4 linked regions of the Homo sapiens genome follow. The gene in region 4 interacts genetically with the main gene of each other region. Each region holds a gene or a part of one and is shown on either strand. Other genes may lie near its edges. The genes, in order: CAMK2G, MMP25, CSNK1G2 and CYP4F12.

What was found.
Region 1: changes in CYP4F12 (region 4) and CAMK2G together harm fitness more than expected from each alone (negative genetic interaction), as found in Homo sapiens cells (one large-scale study listed by BioGRID).
Region 2: changes in CYP4F12 (region 4) and MMP25 together harm fitness more than expected from each alone (negative genetic interaction), as found in Homo sapiens cells (one large-scale study listed by BioGRID).
Region 3: changes in CYP4F12 (region 4) and CSNK1G2 together harm fitness more than expected from each alone (negative genetic interaction), as found in Homo sapiens cells (one large-scale study listed by BioGRID).

The regions. Positions count from the first base shown.
Region 1 is NC_000010.11:73,842,599-73,847,849, reverse strand, and holds part of CAMK2G (calcium/calmodulin-dependent protein kinase type II subunit gamma), read left to right. Parts: intron 1-58; exon of another isoform or gene 59-502; coding exon 503-625; intron 626-5,251.
Region 2 is NC_000016.10:3,054,983-3,059,066, reverse strand, and holds part of MMP25 (matrix metalloproteinase-25 preproprotein), read right to left. Parts: exon of another isoform or gene 4,035-4,084; intron 4,012-4,034; exon of another isoform or gene 3,893-4,011; intron 3,812-3,892; coding exon of another isoform or gene 3,729-3,811; intron 3,332-3,728; exon of another isoform or gene 3,238-3,331; coding exon of another isoform or gene 3,118-3,237; intron 2,035-3,117; coding exon 1,858-2,034; exon of another isoform or gene 1,758-1,857; coding exon 1,673-1,757; exon of another isoform or gene 1,537-1,672; coding exon 1,454-1,536; exon of another isoform or gene 887-1,453; coding exon 734-886; exon of another isoform or gene 656-733; coding exon 398-655; exon of another isoform or gene 365-397; intron 241-364; coding exon 1-240. UniProt on the Homo sapiens protein: May activate progelatinase A.
Region 3 is NC_000019.10:1,943,529-1,948,779, forward strand, and holds part of CSNK1G2 (casein kinase I), read left to right. Parts: intron 1-5,251. UniProt on the Homo sapiens protein: Serine/threonine-protein kinase. Casein kinases are operationally defined by their preferential utilization of acidic proteins such as caseins as substrates. It can phosphorylate a large number of proteins. Participates in Wnt signaling.
Region 4 is NC_000019.10:15,670,804-15,676,585, reverse strand, and holds the start of CYP4F12 (cytochrome P450 4F12), read right to left. Parts: upstream 3,500-5,782; 5' UTR 3,451-3,499; intron 3,058-3,450; 5' UTR 3,057-3,057; coding exon 2,859-3,056; intron 1-2,858. UniProt on the Homo sapiens protein: A cytochrome P450 monooxygenase involved in the metabolism of endogenous polyunsaturated fatty acids (PUFAs).

The sequences.
Region 1 (5,251 bases), on a different chromosome or scaffold from region 4:
CATCCAGGGCCCAATTCTTGCCACTCTATGTCCCAGGGAGCAACTTTCTTTTGCACAGCCTTCTTCATAACTAAAATTGAGGAGTCCACTGAAGTCCTTTGATCTTTACTTGCAAAGAATGGAGCGGCCTCATTGGTGTGCTGTGTAACACAGGGACAAAAGGCCTGGAGACTCCCTCCACTGCAGTGGCACCTTGGACACATTGCTGAGCCTCTGTTCCCTCCTAAGTATAGAGCTGGGCTTAAACCAGAGAATGTTGGAGTCCCCTTCCCGCTCTAATCTGATGTTCTGGCATTCTAAACATGACTGTTCTGTCTGTCTTTCCAAGTCTTTAAGTTGACACAGGTTCTGGAATAGCCGCAGGGCTTCTCCAACTCTGCCAGTCACAGCTTTAGGTACCACAGAGTATCCCAATTACAGGAGTTGAGTTGAAGACAGAACCAGTGTTGCAGGGTATGAAGCTCACCAATACCACATTCTTCTCCCTATTCCTGCTCCTTAGTTCCCATCACCAGAATGGGACACGGTAACTCCTGAAGCCAAGAACTTGATCAACCAGATGCTGACCATAAACCCAGCAAAGCGCATCACGGCTGACCAGGCTCTCAAGCACCCGTGGGTCTGTGTAAGTGTCTTTGCTAGTGGCCAAGGAGCTCAGGGGTGTCAGCCTTCTGTGTGCCCTCGGCACCACCCCCTCCTTCTTACCAGCAGAGATTCATTCTGGGCCCCAAGCAATAACTGAGCAGGCGGGCAGAGGACTGTTGAGGGCCAGGGTCAATAAATGTCACCAGGGAGACTCGGGAGGCTGATGGGGCTGGTGGGCCACTGCTCCTCTCTCCCCCACTCATGGCTGTCAGGCTGGGATTGGTTCTGTTCTTGGATGAGGGCTCAGGTTGACCCTTGTGGACTCCAGGTAGCCGGTGATAGAAAGCAGCTGGCAAAACCCAAAGTGAATTCCCAAGCTGGGGTTCATACTCAGATCTCAACTCCACTGGAGTGGTGACCAAGATCCAACAAATCAACAGAAGGGGTTTCTGAGTCATTAAAAGCATAAAAGCTGAGGCATAAAGCTTCTGCGCTAAAGTCCTAGGAGAGTCCTCTAGGCTATCAGTGTGGGTTGACGTACTCTGTTTTTATACACAATTCTTTCAAGCTGAAATATCAACTTTCAGACAAAGAAGAGGATTTGGTAGAGTTAGGCATCTTGACAACCACGAGGCATTATTTATCTGTCCATTCTGTGTTTATTAAATACCTCTTTGGTGCTGGTTACCGTCTGGGTGCTGGAGATACAAAGATGAATGAGGCATGGTCCCTGCCCCAAAAGATCATCTAGGGAGACAGGCACTCAAACAGGCAGTCATGTTACAATGTGACAAGTAGGTACAAGAATCTAATGAGAGTACAGGAGCTCCTACTGTTCCTGGTGGGTGGTGGGGTTACTGAAGGCTGCACGGAGGAGGTGACACCCCTGTGCTTGTTCTTGGCAAATAACGAGGTCCTCAGAACGTTAACCTGCAGACAGAGTTTAGCACAGTGAGAGGTTATGGGAAACTATGGTGAGTTGAAGGAATGTTGAGTTGTTTGGTTGTCGATGAGGCTGCAAATATCAGAATGCAAGAGAATGGGGCAAAAGATTCCCTGACATACAAGTTTCTGCCTCAGGAGTTTGGATTTTATTCTGAAAACATAGGGAATCATTTAAGGGTTTTAAAGAAGAATGAAATTTGCATTTAAGAACACTTTGGAAGTTGTGAGGAAATGAATTGCCAGGCATGGTGGCATGTGCCTGTAGTCTCAGCTGCTGGGGATGCTGAGGCAGGAGGATCATAAGCCCAGGAGTTTGAGGCTGCAGCGAGCTATGATTGCACCTGTGAATAGTCATTGTACTCCAGCCTGGGAAAGATGGTCAGACCCCACCTCTTTAAAAAAAAAAAAAAAAAAAGAAGGGAATTGAAAATTTTTAAAAGAAAAGGGCTGGAGACAGAGAGCTCAGGAAGCTTTTTTAATAGTTGGAATAGTCTAAGCAAGACCAGGTGAGGTCTCAGCAGAGGGTAAGGATGGGGGAATGTGCAGTGTGTTGAAATTCAAGAGATATTTGAGAGAACCTAAAGGATTTAATTCTCTCCAGTTGGATTTGGGGGGAGCAAAGAAGAGAGAGGCCAGGTTTCAAGTTGAGCGGAGAGTTGTACCCTCACTGACCCAGAAGAAAACCAGAGGAGGAGCTTGTTTGTGAGACAAGACGATGGTTTTCTCTTTTTTTTTTTTTTTTTGAGATGGAGTCTCGCTCTGTCGCCCAGGCTGGAGTGCAGTGGCGCGGTCTCACTGCAAGCTCTGCCTCCCGGGTTCATGCCATTCTCCTGCCTCAGCCTCCCGAGTAGCTGGGACTACAGGTGCCCGCCACCACGCCCGGCTAATTTTTTGTATTTTTAGTAGAGATGGGGTTTCACCGTGTTAGTCAGGATGGTTTCGATCTCCTGATCTCATGATCCACCCGCCTCGGCTTCCCAAAGTGCTGAGATTACAGGCATGAGCCACTGCGCCCGGCCAAGATGATGGTTTTCATTTTGTGCCTGCTGAGTCTGGCAACCTCCAGCCAGACACATTCAGTGGGTGGTTAGAAATATGGTCCTAGAGATTAGAAAAGAAGCTAAAAATTGGAAATCCACATTGTAGTCATTTCTGTGTAGTTGGTAGTGAGGCTGTAGAAATAGCCTCTTCCTATGCTGTAGATGGGCCTGTTCCTATGCTGGTTGAGTTCTTACGGTGAGCTTCTATTGGCTGTAGTAGAGAAGAGACGGCCACTACACACCAGCATTTAATGATAGGGAGAGTTAGGGGGCCCAGCAAAGAGCACTGAGAGTGAGACCTTCCAGAAGACCCAGAAGCTAAGAAACAGGGGGTCTCAGTAAGGGAGCGTCAGGAATCAGATGCAGAAGAGTCCCTGATTAAGTTGGGGAAGAATCCCCTGGCTCTGACCATTAGATGCCATTGTTTCATCATTTCACTGAGACAGTGGAGAGAAAGATGAAACCCTGTTTTCAGTGAGACGAAGAGGGAGTGAGGGTGAGGAGGGGCATGGGGAGCTAGGCATTGAGGTGGGAAATAAATGGTGATACTTAGATTAAGATGGGCCAGGGGAGCTTTTAATGTAAGGCTCACACCTGTAATCCCAGCACTTTGGGAGACCAAGGCAGGCGATCACTTGAGGCCACGAGTTCAAGACCAGCCTGGCCAACATAGTGAAACTCCATCTCTACTAAAAATACAAAAAATTAGCTGGGTATGTTGGTACACACCTATAATCCCAGCTACTTGGGAGGCTGAGGCATGAGAATCACTAGAACCCAGGAGGTGGAGGTTGCAGTGAGCCAAGATAATGACACTGCATTCCAGCCTGGGTGACAGAGGGAGACTCTGCCTCTAAAGAAGAAAAAATTTCTTTTTAAAGATTATATTGGTCAGGAGCGGTGGCTCACACCTGTAGTCCCAGCACTTTGGGAGACCAGGGTAGGTAGATCACTTGAGCCCGGAAGTTTGAGACCAGCCTGGGCAACATGGCAAAACCCCATCTCTACAAAAAAAAAAACTTTAAAAATTAGCTGGTTGTGGTAACGTGCCTTAGCTACTTGGGAGGCTGAGATGAGAGGATCACCTGAGCCTAGAGAGGTGGAGGTTGCAGTAAGCCATTATTGTGCTACTGCACTCCAGCCTGGGCAACAGAGTGAGATGCTGTTTCAAAAAAAAAAAAAAATTTTTTTGTTTAAGGAGAGGCTTAACTATAATCTATAGAGAAGAATCTAGTCCAGAGGAAAGAGTTGAAGATCCTTGCTAATTGAGGAAGCAAAGGTTTGGACAGCAGAAAAAGAGAGGGGGCTCCTGAGCCAAGGGCAGGGGGTCCATCCCGGGGATGACCATGATCCCCCTGAGACTTCTATTAGTGTGGAGGCAGGTGAAGATCGGCTTGTGAGTGGAAGTCTGAGCTGAAAGGGGTTCTTGCTGATGACCTCTCATTTTGCTTTTGGAGAAATTTACACCGAGGAGGAGGTAAAATGAGAGACTTGGGGAAGGTAGAGAAGGTGGGGAGAGTTGCCTCCGGACCTGGAAAGAGTGGGCCAAGGGTGAGGGAAAGGATGCGAGGAGGCCCCGTAGTGTTGGTGGGCACCTGGCTGCAGGTGCCAGGATTTGTTTTTCTGACAGGCTGGTGAAGACAGCAACAGCAAGGGGAGAGGGCAAGCAACCTGAAACAGGCACCCAAGAATGGGGGAAATATTCTGTTCTGGGGTCATTTTTGCAGGCCCTACCCTCTGCAGTCCCGTGTGTCTCGAGCCCCTGAGGACATCACTATATTCTGAAATTACATAATGATGCTGGTATTGACAGCTGAGTCATTGAGGAAGTGTAGACTGTGTCCCATGGACTCTGTTTAAGGAGGCCAGGAAGTTAGCAGTAAATACATTGAAGACAAATTTCCATCCAAAAAAGGCGGGGCACAGTGGCTCACACCTGTTATCCCAGGACTCTGGGAGGCCGAAGTGAGCAGATCACTTGAGGTCAGGAGTTCGAGACCACCAGCCTGGCCAACATGGCCAACCCTGTCTCTACTAAAAATACAAAAATTAGCTGGGTGTGGTGGGATGTGCCTGTAGTCCCAGCTACTCGGGAGGCCAAGACAGGAGAACCTGAGAGGCGGAGGCTACGGTGAGCCGAGATTGCACCACTGCACTCCAGCCTGACTGACAAAGCGAGACTCCATTGCAAAAAAAAAAAAAAATTACATCCAGAATGATGAAAAGAATTGATGCTTCAAGGTGACGATCCTTAGCTTCTGGGATCATGGCTTCATTCAGGACCTTGCTGGGGGTGTGTGGAGAGGGGCTCTTGGAAGGAAGGAATGTCCTCTGTAGAGAGCAGGAACCCTGCCGTTCTCTCGCTGCTGAGCATCTGGAACGCAGTAGGTGCTCAGTAAACAGCTGCCTAAGGAGTGACTGAATGAGGATCACAGCCCCCAGGGTACTCTCCTGTTCGGTAGCCTCTGTTTCCCAAGGAAGAATAGGACGGTCTCTCAGCAGCCCGTCTAGCATCCGTTATGGTGTTCTCACGTTCATGTTGTCCTTATGTAACCTTGAGTTTCGGGTAGTGCTTTTATTCTAAAAGCGTTTTCACATCTGTGACCTCATTTCATCTTCAGAGCAACTCTGGGGTGGCTGAGTGCATGACCCTGTCCTGGGCATGGTATCGGTGCCAGGAC
Region 2 (4,084 bases), on a different chromosome or scaffold from region 4:
GCAAGAGGAGCAGCGGGATGGGAGCAGGCCAACGTCCTGCGGCCTGGTTGAGCTCGCACTGACAATCGCAGGTTTCGGACACGGGGGTCGCTTTGGGGGGCCTGGGGGCGCGGGGACCAGAGCTCGGGGCGGGGCAGTCCAGCCAGTTGGGCCCCATGGGCTGGGGGGCGTCCGGCTCGGTCTTGATGCTGTTCTTGGGGAAGCGCCAGTAGTGGGCGCCCTTGAAGAAGTAGGTGTCACCTGGAGGAGCAGAGCTTGAGTCCCGGTCCCTCCCCGCCCCGCCGCTCCCTGATGCCCAAGGACCCCCATCCCCGCAGGGTGGCCTCCATGTCCCCATTCCCCACATCCCTCTCCCCACCCCCAGGCCCAGTAACCCGCAGGTCACCGCGCTCCCCACCTGCGTTGCTGACGGTGACATCGTCAGGGGAGGGGGGCGCGCCTTCCCAGAGGCTCAGGTCGCGAGGGTAGCCGGGGTCCGGGCGCGCCGCCGCCTCGTCGTAGCGCCAGTACTGCCGGCCGCGGACCAGGTAGGTCTTCCCGTTCTGTGGCCACGAGAACACGGCGTCCACCTCCTCTCCCGGGGGCAGCCCCAGCTCCGTGAGCGGCCGCGCCCCGCCCTCCAGCTGCCGGTCCTGGAACACCCAGAACTGGGGCCCTGCAGGGTGGAGGCCGGGAGGTCAGGGGTGGGCTCCCCGCGCCGGCCCCAGCGCGCCCCGCCGCCGGCCCCACTCACCGCTAAAGAGGAGGATTCGGCCGTCTCGGTGCCGAGCATAGGCGGCCTGCACCACCCTCACCTGGGCGGGCAGCCCCTCCCAGAAGCGGTGCAGCCGTGCGGGTCGCGGGGACACCAGCTGTCCGGAGGGCTGGAGGCGCCAGAACCAGGGGCCTGCAGGGGACAAAGGGGTTCGCAGGAAGGCATGAGACAGCAGGAGGTCTCCTCCCCCAGGGTGTGTGGCTGGGTGGGGAGGGGTCCCATCTGGAAATCAAGGGCGCAATGGATCTAGGGTGACCAGCCCATCCTGGCCCGCCTGAGACTTTTCCCTTTTTAGCGCTAAAAGTGCCAGGGCCTTGCCTGGTGGCTCAGACCTGTAATGCCAGCACATTGGGAGGCTGACACCGGAGAATCACCTGAGCCAGGAGATTGAGCCCAGCCTGGGCAATATAGTGAGACTCCATCTCTACAAAATAATAAAATAAATTACTAGCAAGGCGTGGTGGCATGTGCCTGTGGTCCCAGCTACCAGGGAGGCTGAGGTGGGAGGATCGCTTGAGCCCAGTATTTTGAGGCTGCAGTGAGCCATGATCACACCACTGCACTGCGGCCCAGGCAACAAAGCAAGACCCTGTCTCAAAGAAGAAAAAAGTTCCGCTTCCAGGGTAAGCCCACAGCCCCAGTGGGTCACTGGAAGTGGGCAGGAAACCAACATATATGAGGCCAAGTGAAATGACTCACCTTTGAAGAAGAAAGTTTCCCCTCGGATGTTGGCGATGGCGTCAAAATTGCCCTCACATCGATCAGGGATGGGGAAGGATGGGCTGGGGAGGAAAGGAGAGGTGAGTAGAGAGGGGGGTTTGTTTTCTCCAAGGCAGGGACCCCCACCATCCCCATCTCAGAGGACACTGAGGCTGGGCAGCTGGTCACCCAAGGTCTCCGAGTTGGTGGGGGACTCACCTGTGTGTGGGCGAGGCCGGGGGCTGGGGCGGAGGAGCCAGGGGTTTCCTTGTGGGCTTGTCATATGGGGTTTGGGGCGCCTTCCCTGTGAGGAAAGAGTCAGGCAGGTGTGCGTCCCCTGGCCCTGCTGCAGAGGACACTGGATGGGGCAATGATGGTTTCGCGGCAGGTCCCTCTCCCCCTACCATAGAGTTGCTGCAGGCCATCGCGGTCATCCTGAGACAGGCGGTACTTGTCAGGGTCGCCCACCGGACCCTGGTAGAAGGGCCTCATAATGGAGTTGGGGGCTGAGGAGTGGCCCAGGCCCAGGGCGTGGCCAAACTCATGGACAGCCACGGCAAACAGGTCGGTCCCCTCGCCGTCTGCAGGAGAAAGTGGGTGAGAGCTGCGGCCGCCCCTGCTTGGGGAAAGGGGCCACAGGAAGGCCCTGCGAGTGCAGCTGGGGCCAACAGGAACAGCAGGACACCCTCCAGAGGTGGCCCCAGCCTCCTCTGCCCAGCCCTTCCTGAACTCTCCATCATCCCTGTCTCCAGTCACTCAGTCAGCATGGCTGTGATGGACACTGGACCACAGGGCTGAAAAGATCCAGAGAACACACAGAGGAATAGGCCACCTTACACACCGATGGGGCCCCTCCTCTGGGAAGGGAGCACTTTGTGCACAGAAGTTTGAGGGGGAGGAGCTGGGTGTGGTGGCTCATGCCTGTAAACCCAGCACTTTTGGAGTCCCAGGTGGGAGGATCGCTTGAGCCCAAGAGTTCAAGACTGGCCTGGACAACATAAGGAGATCCCCATCTCTACAAAAAAATTTTAAAAATTGGCCAGGAGTGGTGGCGCATGCCTGTGGTCCCAGCTACTCAGGTCCCAGGCTGAGGCAGGGAGGCAGGAGAATCGCTGGAGCCCGGGAGGTGGAGGCTGCAGTGACGCATGACCATGTCATTGCACTCCAGCCTGGAGGACAGAATAAGGCCCCGTCTCAAAAAAAGTAAAAAGAAAAAAAAAGAAAAAGAAAATAAAAGAAACTTAAGAGGGCGGTGGGGTGAGGGCAGGAGCCTACAAGGTGCGTGCCATTCTCTTCAGGCAGCCCCAGCCCTGGGAGCATCCCCTCCTCCCAGCTACAGTCTATAGTCAGCGACCCCCACCCGTCTCCCCCTTGCCACCCCCATCTGCTGGGGATGTAGGTCCATGTCCTTGACCCAAGACCTTCCCTCATTCCTGCCCCCATCCCTCCTCAAGCCATATCCCTTACATCCCTTGAGTCCTCCATCCCCCCTCCCCCATCTCCCTGTTCACAGCCTCTGCCCCTCCTCTCCCTACCCTGTACCACCCCCACCCCAGGTCTTCCTCCATCTCCTTGGGAACACAGAGCTCCTCTAGCAGGCACTCTCAGAACACAGCCTGCCGGCCCCAGCACCCGGCCTTGCTCCCAGCCTCTTCCCTCTGTATTCAGCTCAGGCGCTCAGGACTGCCAGGACCCAGAGGATTCACACGCCAGCCCCGGCTGAAGCCCAGCTCCTCATCAACCGGTGAGCCGCCTGCCAGCTCCTGCTCCAGCTGCTGAGAGGCCTGAAGAGACCAAGACAGAGACACAGCCCCGCAGCACCACAGGGAGGCCCCAGTTACCCCATGCGGATGAGTTTCATGGCCATCTCTAACTAAGGTCAGCACTGTTCAGGGCAGGTTCATAGGTAACGACCTGGTGAACTGAAAAGCAAATTTCTCTCGGTCCCTAAAGCCACTCGCTGAGCGTCTAAGCATGAAACGTGAGACCTAAGAGGGGTAGCAAACACGTTTTCGTTCACTTCTCACCAAACCTGTCTCCTATGCCCATTTTACAGAGGAGGAAACTGAGGCACAGAGACTTCAAGGTAGATGGCCAGGTACCCTGGCTCTGCCAGCCTGCCTTTCAGCAGGGGCTTCAATGGTCTTGCTCAAATCACATCCGCACTGACGAATTTCCCTGTCGACTGTAGGTTCTCTTGTTGCTCTGAGTCCTTTTTCTGAGAAACTGGGGGTAGTTTGGTGTTTCAATCAGGGCGATATCTTTCATCTCTCACCTTCTTCCCTGCCTTGTCTCTCCTTGGCCATACTGGGCTTCCGGGCCCTGCACCCCTTCCTGCACCCTTGTCACGCCATGCATCTGGGGGAAGTTACACAACCACAGCTGTGCAGACCCAGCCCCACAAGATTCCCAGAGGGCAGTCCACAGGGGCCCCGGCACCTCCTGTCATCCTTGCTCCAGGCTTTGGCAGGCAGCTCCTGCACGCTCCCCTCAGCCCCATTCCAGGCCCACAGCCCCTCAAGCTTCCACCCAGCCCCAGCCACTAACTCTCAAATGACAAATGTGTTTCCTGTTTCATCAGGACAGGACATCGATGTCATCTGTAACTTCCGGTGCACTGGGGCACACAGC
Region 3 (5,251 bases), about 14 Mb from region 4:
GTTGCTCATCCCAAGCTTAGGGGAAGCCAGTATGCCAGCCATTAATTTGGGGATTGGGGTAGTCCTGTTGGTGTGCCAGGCACGGTTGGGAGGGGGGGCACTGTGTCTTTTGGAACTGGTGGGGGTTACCGCGCGCCCGAGTGGCAGACTCTAGCGCCCCAGCAGATGCGTCCGCAGAGCCACTGGGACGGACGGAAGCTGAGCTTAGGGACAGCCGGAGTTGCTTGCCCTGGGGCATCTGGAGAGGGGGATCCTGTTGAGCGTTTGATGTTGCCTCCTTTCTGCACCCCCCACCGAGCTGCCCCAGGCCCCCAGGGGCTCATGGTCCGTCAAGGCCTTGACCGAGGCCTGGCGGAGGGCGGGTGGTGGATGGAGGCAGCGCTGTGGGTGCTGTTGGGGCCGAGTGCCGGGCACAGCCTGGCAGGGGCTGCGGGCCTCGGGTGGCAGTGGGCAGGCCAGCATGTGGGGCTGGCTGACTTTCTCTGAACCCAGAGGGGACACAGGGCCCATGTGAAGGAGGCCTGGCCCGAGTCCTGGTTAGGGTTGCGGTGGTGGCGGGCAGCTGTGGGCTTCGTCCTCAGGTCAGCCTCAAGTCCTGTGTCCAGCTAGGGCTCGGTGGCCGTGCGCGTGTTGGGTCGAGCTCTGGTGTCAGGCGTGCCGGGTCCGCCTCCCCCATCCCGCGGATCTGCAGATCTGCAAATGCTCCGCCGGCAGCCACACGAGAGAACCTGTTGGTTGGCGGCCTCTGTGCAAGGCCGTCTGAGTGAGGCCTGCAGTCTGGAGGCTCCCTAGGTCGGGAGGCTCCGCGTCTGCTTCTTCCTCATTCTGGAGTTCTCGTGGGGCCCGTGCTGTGGGGCTTCCTGGGAAGTGGGTGGAGCGCCCATTTTACAGATGAGGAAGTCGAGGCCTACCTGGCCTGCTTGGGTAGAGGAGAAGGTGGTGTTTCCCGAGGGCTGACTCCCACACCTGTGCTTCTCTGGTCACCCGCCGTGCCAGTGGGAGCAGTGACAGCGAGGGGTGGTGGCCCTGCGGCCAGGGGACGGGCCTCACCGCCTTCCCCATCCTCTCTGCTGGCTCTGTCCAGAGGGCTGTGCCGCCCTGTGACTGGCACGTGGGTGCAGCCGTCTGCTGGGTGGGTCTGTCCGGGAGCTTGACTGGCCTGGCTGGGTGGGGGGGGGTACCCCTTTGTGCTACCTCAGCGAGGGCTCAAAGTGAGGGTCTGGGACCACCAGAACGGTGTATTCAATGCACTGCGGGCAGCCCTGCAGCGGGCAGGGATTGAGTGAGGGGTGGGGCCTGCCTGGCTCCTGGCAAGCACCCGTCTGGCGGGCGGGGCCCAGTGAGCCTCCTCCCTTTGCCGGGTCCTCCTGTAGTGGGGCAGGAACCTCTAGCATCCCACCCTTGCTGCCCTTTTTCTGCCCCGCTCACCACCCACATCAACTTGTCACCAGCAAGGGCATGGGACAAAGCAGGACATGCCCCGGGTGGCCAGCGTGAGCTAGCTGTGCCCAGGAGCATTGCCCATGCTGTCCCCCAGGCACTGTCCTGAAGCCCTGCTGGGTTCTGAGTCCTCCAGGCTCCGCGGCCCCTTCTCGCCCTGCCCAGAGTCTCTGGCCACCACCGCTGCTTGGGGCCCTGCACCAGCCTGTGCGCCCGCAAGGTTGCCAGGGCCCCTCTGCAGGTGCAGCGTGAGCTGTGTCCTGGGCCCACAGGGGAGCCGCTTCTCAGACCCCCGGGCTGGCCCCAGGCTCCCCCGGCAGCACTCAGGCGGCCCTGGCCCCCGGTGCGGCTGACTGTTCGGGGCACGCGTCTGAGGTGTGGGGATCATCTCCCCCTTGCTCAGAGCCCCCAACGTGTCCCCTGCACAGGGAATCGGGGCAGCCCCCTGCCAGCCCTGCCCAGGGATCCCTCCTGTCACCCTCAGGCGTGCTCCTGGGTGGCCCAGCGGCCTCCCTGCACCGTGAGGCCCGAGACAGTTTCGCGTGACATCATGTTGAAAACAGCCAGCTCTGGCCGGGCGCGGGGGCTCCCACCTGTCATCCCAGCACTTTGGGAGGCCGAGGTGGGCGGATCACCTGAGGTCAGGAGTTCAAGACTAGTCTGGCCAACATGGCAAAACCCCATCTCCACTAAAAATACAAAAATTAGCCGGGCGTGGTGGCGTGCGCCCATAATCCCAGCTACTCGAGAGGCTGAGGCAGGAGAATCACTTGAACCCGGGAGGTGGAGGTTTTAGTGAGCCAGGATCGCGCCACTGCACTCCAGCCTGGGCAACAGAGCGAGACTCCGTCTCAAAAAAAAAAAAAAAAAAAGCTGGTTCTCCCTTGATGCGCATCTGCTGAACTTCTGGGGCACGCTGGGGTAGAGCAGTGGGTCCCTCCCTGGAGAGGCCATGGGGTGAGGACCGAAGCTGTGGGTGCCAAGTGGGGCAGGCAGCCCAGTGGAGTGGGGCAAGAGACTCTGGTCTGGCCGGCCTGACCCGTGGGGTATGACTCTTGTTACGGCAGATTCCATCTAGGAGCGGAGGCCACGCGTATGTTCCCGGGAGAGGTGGGAAGTGCATCCCGTGGCCTATCCCGGGGAGGTCACTCCCATTCCATACCTGCAGGGGGAGCTAGCTGCCTCACGTCTGTGTCTCAGGCCGCGCAGAGGAGGGGGCGCAGGTGAGGGCAGCGGGAAGAAAGACTGCAAGAGGCTCGGGGGTCACGGGCCAGGGCTGGCCCATCACTATTTATTCGTTTATTTATTTATTTATTTATTTTTTATTTATTTATTTTTTTTAAGATGGAGTCTTGCACTGTTGCCCAGGCTGGAGTGCAGTGGCCCGATCTCAGCTCACTGCAAGCTCCGCCTCTTGGGTTCACGCCATTCTCCTGCCTCAGCTTCCCGAGTAGCTGGGACTACAGGCGACCGCCACCACGCCTGGCTAGTTTTTTGTACTTTTAGTAGAGACGGGGTTTCACCGTGTTAGCCAGGATGGTCTCGATCTCCTGACCTCGTGATCTGCCCGCCTCGGCCTCCCAAAGTGCTGGGATTACAGGCGTGAGCCACCGCGCCCGGCTATTTATTTATTTATTTATTATTATTATTATTATTTTCTTTGAGATGGAGTCTCGCTCTGTTGCCCAGGCTAGAGTGCAGTGGCGCAATCTTGGCTCACTGCAAGCTCCGCCTCCCGGGTTCACGCCATTCTCCTGCCTCAGCCTCTCCAGCAGCTGGGACTACAGGTACATGCCATCACGCCTGGCTAATTTTTGTATTTTTAGTACAGACGGGGTTTCACTGTGTTAGCCAGGATGGTCTCCATCTCCTGACCTTGTGATCTGCCCGCCTCGGCCTCTCAAAGTGCTGGGATTACAGGCATGAGCCACTGTGCCCGGCCTATTCATTTATTTATTTAGAGACAGAGTCTCGCTCTGTTGTCCATGTTGGCCAAGCTGGTCTTGAACTCCTGACCTCAGGTGATCCACCTGCTTCAGCCTCCCTCATAGCTGGGATTACAGGCGTGAGCCACCGTGCCCGGCCCTATCGCTATTTAAAAGGCAGAGAAAATCTTAGAGGTTTTTTTATTGTCACCAGCGGTGTTTCGTTGATGCGTAATTGCCTTTGGAGGCTTGAAAAAAGTTGTGCTTAAAGGTAATCCCTCAATTATCTGGAAACTTCCACCCTCCAGAGTGAGGCACCCCAAGTCCTGGTCTGGATTCGTGGACAGAGTCCCTGCCTGTGAGGCCTGATGGCCAGTCCTCTCGCCTTGGCCGTGGTGCTTCAGGCCCTGTTGCAGGTGGGACCCGCCCTCCTTAGGGACCTTGTTTCCCAGGTGATGCTCATGTAATCTGCGGTGACCTCTGCCCCTTCCCATCTGACCTCTGTCCCCAGGAAAGATGGCAGGCGTGCGAGGGCTCATCCTGTCCGCGGCAGTTGTGCCCCTCGGGCTTCTGCTCCAGTGGTCCTGGGGCAGGGCAGCTGGCGCTGATGCCCAGGCTCTGCCTGGGGACAGTTCCCAGGACGGGAGCCTGAGGGCAGCGCACGGGACCAGCGTGAGGACACGGACTGGCCCGTGTCTGCCTCTGACTTGCTGGGTGTGCCTTTGAGTTCCTCTGAGGGTGGGTGCGCCGAGGGGGATCCAGCTGGGCCCTGGCCACGTGCAGGCCAGCCAGAGCCCTGGAGCCTGCAGGTGGGCTGGGACAGGGCTTGCGACCGCAGGGGTGGTGTGCGTTTGCGCTGGCGTCTGCACAGGTGTGTGCGTGCTGTGCCATCACGCTGGTCAGGCCTGTACGCCGTGGAGAGGGGCGCTGTGTGGGGCTCGCTGCCTGAGCCCTGGGTGGACCGTGGCTGCCCCATGAGTTGTCGGGGACCTCCGCTGCCCCTTGGACCTCGCCCGCGGCCCTGGGCAATGGGTGTGGTGACGTCCTGGGGCCCCCATGAGTCAGCTCGTCCTCGTGCCCGGGCACTGGCCTCTCCTTCCTGTGGGCGCACAGCCCCGGTTCCTCTGAAAGCTTCGTGGGCCGGGACCCGGGATGAGCTGGTTAAACCCTGGCCCTGTGAGCAGGAGGTGTGGCTTCGGGGGGCGGCCCCGCCCTGGGCTCAGACTTGATCCTGCACCGGAGGGAGCCATTCTGGAAGGCCGCTGCCCCGGGCCCTGTCCCTCCCCCTCTCATCCCCAGGGTGCTGGCCAGAGCCGGGCTCACAGCGTTTCTTAAAATTAACGATCCCGGCCGGGCGTGGTGGCTCACGCCTGTAATCCCAGCACTTTGGGAGGCCGAGGCGGGTGGATCACGAGGTCAGGAGATCGAGACCATCCTGGCTAACACAGTGAAACCCCGTCTCTACTAAAAAGACAAAAAATTAGCCGGGCGCGGTGGCAGGCGCCTGTACTCCCAGCTACTCGGGAGGCTGAGGGAGGAGAATGGCATGAACCCGGGAGGCGAAGCTTACAGTGAGCTGAGACCGCGCCATTGCACTCCATGTGGGCGACAGAGTGAGACTCCGTCTCAAAAAAAAAAAAAAAAAACGCAAAAAAAAAAAAGATCCCGTCACACTGACCCAGCTCACTGTTCTCTTACCAGCCTTATTTCGGTGTGGTCCTTAGAGCATGAGCCACTTTTTTTTGCTGGGAACATAATCCACGTTTGGTAAAATTCGGCAACGTGTGCACGCAAGTGGTTTTTGTACAGCTGACCCTTGAGCAGGGTGGGGTTTAGGGCAGCAGCCCCTCATGTAGCAAAATACCCTCGTATAGCTTTCGAGTCCT
Region 4 (5,782 bases):
GGAATGAGTGTGGGTAGAGGAATGAGTGAGTGAGGATATGAATGAGTGAGTGGGCAGAGGAATGAGTGGGTGAGGAGAGGAATGAATGAGTGAGAAAAGGAATGAGTGAGTGAGGACAGGAATGACTGAATGAGGAGAGGAATGAGTGAGTGAGGAGAGGAATGAGTGAATGGGCACAGGAATGAGTGAGTGAGGAGAGGAATGAGTGAGTGAGGAGAGGAATGAGTGAGTTGGTATTAGAATGAGTGAGTGAGGAGAGGAATGAGTGAATGGGCACAGGAATGAGTAAGTGAGGAGAGGAATGAGTGAGCCGTCTCCCTTGGTTCTCTGGGTTCCCAGACCCCAGCCACCATCAATACACAGCTCCCTGAACCCCTACTGGAAGTCCCACCCCTCTGGAAGTCCACCCACCCTGAGACGCCAGACCCCATCCAATCCATTGAGGGCATGAACAGGACAAAAGGCAGAGGAAAGGAAGAACTTGCTCTCTCTTCTGCTGCTGGGATATCCGTCTTCTCCTGCCCTCAGAACTCCAGGGACTCAGGCCTTTCTGGACTCAGGCTGAATTTACACCACCAGTGTCCCTGGTTTCTGGCTTGCAGATGATATATCATGGGACTTCTTGGCCTCCATCATCACATTATCCAATTCCCATAATAAATTCTTATCTCTCTATCTCTTTCTGTCTCCATACATACATGCATTAGAGATAAGAAGAAACACCCTATCTGTTTCTAAGGAGATTCCGTTTCTAGGGAGAACCCTGACTAATGCACCTCCCTAGATGAAGCCACAGCAAGTCCCCCCACAGCCACCGGATGTGGTGCAGCCTCTGCAGTGAGCAGCGTGTCTGGATTCTCAGCAGCTGCAGTGGGTTTCTGCTGACTTCTGCTCCTTCTCTCTTGGAGCTGTCCCCAAGATCCAAGGGTAAATACCAAAGCAGAGAGAGAAGACAAGCTGTCTGCTCAAGAGGATGTGTTTTCTCATCCTGGATTGATTTCAATCTGGGGATTGCTATATGGGAAGGTCCCCATGGAAGGAGGTTTGTGGGCAGCAGTGTGGCCTCAGGACATATCCCTAGAGCTGGTTGCCATATCCTTTTGTGTCCTGGTTGGTCCACATGGGCACTGGTTCCTCCCACAGACAAAGGGCCTGCGTCCTGAGGGCCCTCCATTCTCAGCAGCCTCCAGGGGAGCAGAGGTGACTCTAATGTCCATCAGGATGGCAGCTCCCACCTAGGAGAGCCTCACTTATGCCAGGTTCTGTGCTAGTGCCTCCTGTGCACCTGTGGACACACCGATCAATCCTGCCTTTTGTAAGTGAGCAGACAGAGGCCACATCCCCCAAAGGGGAGGGCCGGTCCCAGTCGGAGGGAAAGGTTTGGGAGTACCAAGGACGGCTTCTGAAAGGGGAAGGGAGTGGCCAAATTATATCCAGGTTGGGCTACAGGGCTCACTGGGACATCTTACTGGGGAAGAGCACATTGTCCCTGGAAGGAGAGGGTGTGGGAGACTGCCTGCACTTCTCTTCTGGTCCAGCTGTGTCCCTCCGTGGGGAAGGAAGTCAGAGATAATTCCTGCGGGAAAGCAGCAGCCCAGAGATGGGCAGATACAAGCAAATGGGCCATGCAGGGAGCAGCCTGTCTATCGGGGCTCAGAAGGCTTCAAGTCCAGCAGTGGAGAAGGTGGGAATGCCAGGAGAGCCCTGCTCTGTGCACCCCACAACCATACAGGAGCCTCTGGGAGGGGCACTACGGTAGGGAAGACAGGCAGGAAAAGGATCCAAGCAGGCTGAGGTGGGAGGACAGGGAGGTGAGAAAGGTTTGGCATGGAACTGCAGAGGAATGAATGAATGAGGAAAGGAATGAGTCGGTGGGTAGAGGAATCAGTGAATGAGGAGAGGAATGAGTGAGTGAGGAGAGGAATGAGTGAGTGGGGAGAGCAAAAAGTGAGTGGATAGAGGAATAAGTGAATGGGTAGAGGAATGAGTGAGTGGGCAGAGGAATGAGTGAGTGATGAGGGGAAGGAGTGAATGAGGAGAGGAATGAGTGAGCAGAGGAATGAGTGAGTGAGCAGACGAATAAGAGTGAGGAGAGGAATGAGTGAGTGAGGAGAGGAATGAGTGAATGAGAGGAATGCGCGAATGAGAGGAATGCGCGAGTGAGGAGAGGAATGAGTGAGTGAGGAGAGGAATGAGTGAGTGGGTAGAGGAATGAGTGAGTGAGGAGAGGAATGAGTGAGTGGGTAGAGGAATGAGTGAGTGAGGAGAGGAATGAGTGAGGAGGGGAATGAGTGAGTGAGGAGAGGAATGAGTGAGTGAGGAGGGCAATGTGTGAGTGGGTAGAGGAGTGAGTGAGTGGGTAGAGGATTGAGTGAGTGGGTAGAGGAGTGAGTGAGTGGGTAGAGGAATGAGTGAGTGAGGAGAGGAATGAGTGAGTGAGGAGAGGAATGAGTGAGTGAGGAGAGGAGTGAGTGAGTGAGGAAAGGAGTGAGTGAGTGGGTAGAGGAATGAGTGAGTGAGGAGAGGAATGAGTGAGTGAGGAGAGGAGTGAGTGAGTGGGTAGAGGAGTGAGTGAGTGGGTAGAGGAGTGAGTGGGTAGAGGAATGAGTGAGTGGGTAGAGGAATGAGTGAGTGGGTAGAGGAGTGAGTGAGTGGGTAGAGGAGTGAGTGAGTGGGTAGAGGAGTGAGTGGGTAGAGGAATGAGTGAGTTAGCAGAGGAATGAGTGAGCCATCTCTCTTGCTTCTCTGGGGTCGCAGACCCCAGCCACCATCAATACCTAGCTCACTGAGCCCCATTCCTGCTCCTCTGGAAGTCCATCCACCCTGAGACCCCAGACACATTTTGCTGTCACACTCACCAGGCCCAGGTGACCCCAAAACCAGTTCCGTTTTGGGGGCTGTGGGAAACACTGGAGCCGGCGGCAGTTGTTATAGAAGGCATAGGTCCAAGCCAGGATGCGGGCGAGTAGCCAGGAGCCCACAACCAGCAGCAGGAGTAGCCATGGGGACGTTGCCACCGGTCTGAGGCCCAGCCAGGGCAGGCTCAGCAGCGACATCCTGCAGGGCAGAGGGGATGCAGGGTGAGGACCTGAGGCCCAGGGAAGAGCTCCGGGGACAGTGTATAGGGGCGAAGTCAGGAACTGCTGGGGGCAGGGCAGGGAGGGCTCAGGGGTGAGTAAACGAGGGCTGAGATCTGAAGTCCAGAAAGTCCCAACCAAAACCAACAACTAAGTGGCCTCCAGTAACCTGGTAACCACACAGAAAGGGAAAGAGATGGGCCGATTAGAGTCCAGAAGGGCCCCACCTGAATCCTTGGGAGTTTGCTAGGAGTCCAGTTACCAGGAAACCCCCAGTTTCCCATGCCAGCATCTTGGAGCCACCCCAGCCTTAGGCAGTCCCCTCTTCATCCCAGGCCAGGACCTTCCAGCCCTGCCACCCCCAGCCTGGTACCTTCTGTCGGGAGCAGCTTGTCCCACACAACCTCTTCTCCTCTTCTGCTGGGAGGTCTTTGGCCCTGGCCCCTGATCTAGGGAAGGCCGTAGGAGGCGGGGCTGGGCTGGGCTGGGCTGAGGCAGCCAATCCCCACAGCCTGGGTGTGTCTTCCGTGCCTGGGCAGCCAGCCAAAACCTGGGGTTGGGCCCACTGGGTGCAGCTCAGGGTGCCCCAGCACGAGCACTGAATTCTCAGGTCTCAGTACCTTCTTGGGAGTTTGCAGGGGAAGTTGGAGGGTGGTTAGAGGGGACTCTGAACCCCAAGTTTACCTCCACCCTGCCCTTCCAAGACAAGGGTGTTCAGATAAAAGCATATACTTATCATGACAGTTGGCAGCCAGCTGAGCTGGGCCAGGCCAACCCTTGTCCCAGATCATCTGGGCTCCTCTCCAAACATGGGCGGGGAGGATGTCAGGCACTACATCTTGGTGCAGACTTAGGAGATTCAGAGACAGAAGCCTCTCATCTCTGGCTTCACAGCCTGGCAAGAGTTCAAGTCCTGCCTCCTGGCAGCCCAGGGCCTGAGTTGAGGCCTGACTGCTTGAAGCAGGAAGAAAGAATCCAGCCCCAACCCCGCTGAGGATTACCTTCGTCAGATTCTGGGGATAAAGAGCCCAGCTGGAGGAGCAAACCTAGAAGCTGGGCTCAGCTTAGGAGGACAGAGCGGAGGCACAGGGGATGAGGCTGAGAGGGGCCTTGAGCTGACGGGGTCCAGGCAGGGGAGGGCAGAGCAAGGGGATCCCGAGTGGAGTCCTTGTTCTGCCCTGTCCTTTCTCTGACTGTGGGCAGTGTGGCCATCCTGGGCTCAGGCTTCCCATCTGGGAAATGGGATGTCAGATGAGGCCTTAGAGGGCGACGGAGGAAGGCTCCTAAGAAAAGGGAGCTCCAAAAAGAGGGACTGAAGGGAAGGGGATGACAACTAGCACTTGAGCTGCTGTGTGCCTGTCTCTACTCCATGCGAAAGACTGTACGGAAAGCACTACTGTGTGCACCTACTGTGTGCCAGTTTCACTATATAAAGTGCACTTACTGTGTATCAGATACTGTACATAAATTCTGTCTACTATGTGCCAGGTATGCCACATAAAGCTCACCTACTGTGTGCAGCATGCTGTACATAATGTAAGCTTACTTTATGCAGAGTACTTCATATAAAGCGTGCCTACTCTGTGCCATGTGCTGTATATAAAGCATACCTACTGTGTGTCAGGTGCTCCACATTGAGCATGTGTACTACGTACCTGGTGACCCACAGAAAGCGCACCTACTCTGCATCAAGTAATCTACATAAATCTTGTCTACTGTGTGCTGGCTATTCTACATATAGTGCACCTACTGTGTGCCAGGAGCTCCACATAAATACTGTCTACTGTATGCTGGGAGCCCTTCACAAATCCTGTATCTTGAGTCCCTGGCCCTTTATATAAACCATGCTTGCTGTGTGCCAGGTGCTCTAAATAAAGCACACCTACTGTGTGCCAGATGTTCCACATAAAATGCTTCTCCCGTGTGTTAGGTCCCCTACATAAAGTAAAACTACTCGGTGCAACATACTTGACATAAAGCACACATACTGTGTGCCAGGTACACTATATAAAGTGTGCCTTATTGTGTGCCAGATATGCTACATAAAGAGCACCTACTGTGTGCCAGGTATGCCGCATAAAGTGTACCTACTATGTGCTAGGTACGCCACATAAAGTACACCTACTGTGTGCCAGGTGCTCTACATAAGGTGCACCTACTATGTGCCAGGTGCTCTATATAACGTGCACCTGCTTGTATCAGATGCTCACCTGCATCACAGTGCCCAAAGCTGTCCCACCACCCTCCCAACAGCTCCCTAGGCCAGAACCCTGGGCATTGTTGAAGAGACCTGAGTGATGGCATCCAGAGGAGAGAAGGTGTCCATTTAACACAAAAGCAAACTGAGGCTCAGAGAGGGCAGGCCTCTAGTCCAAGTTGCAGAGCTCATAGGAACTCAAGACTATGAGACCCTCAAGTCCAAATCCGTTCCCTCTGCCATGCTGCTCCACCCCCATTCTTTAGTGTCAATGCCATATTAATATAGGGACATTTATAATGGAGTAATCTCAGGCAGTGTGATAGCCCCAAAGGGGAAATATCTTGAGGCCCTTGGATCAGCACCTGGCTCCTTCTCCCACATGCAGGATTCTCCTCCCAACAGATCCAGGGCTCCCCTCCTGGCCCTCCCTAGATCCTGTCCTGAATTGTCCTGTGGGGTGGACTCAGGTGAGGGGGGCGCTTGAAGGAGGGGGCTCCTAGCAGAA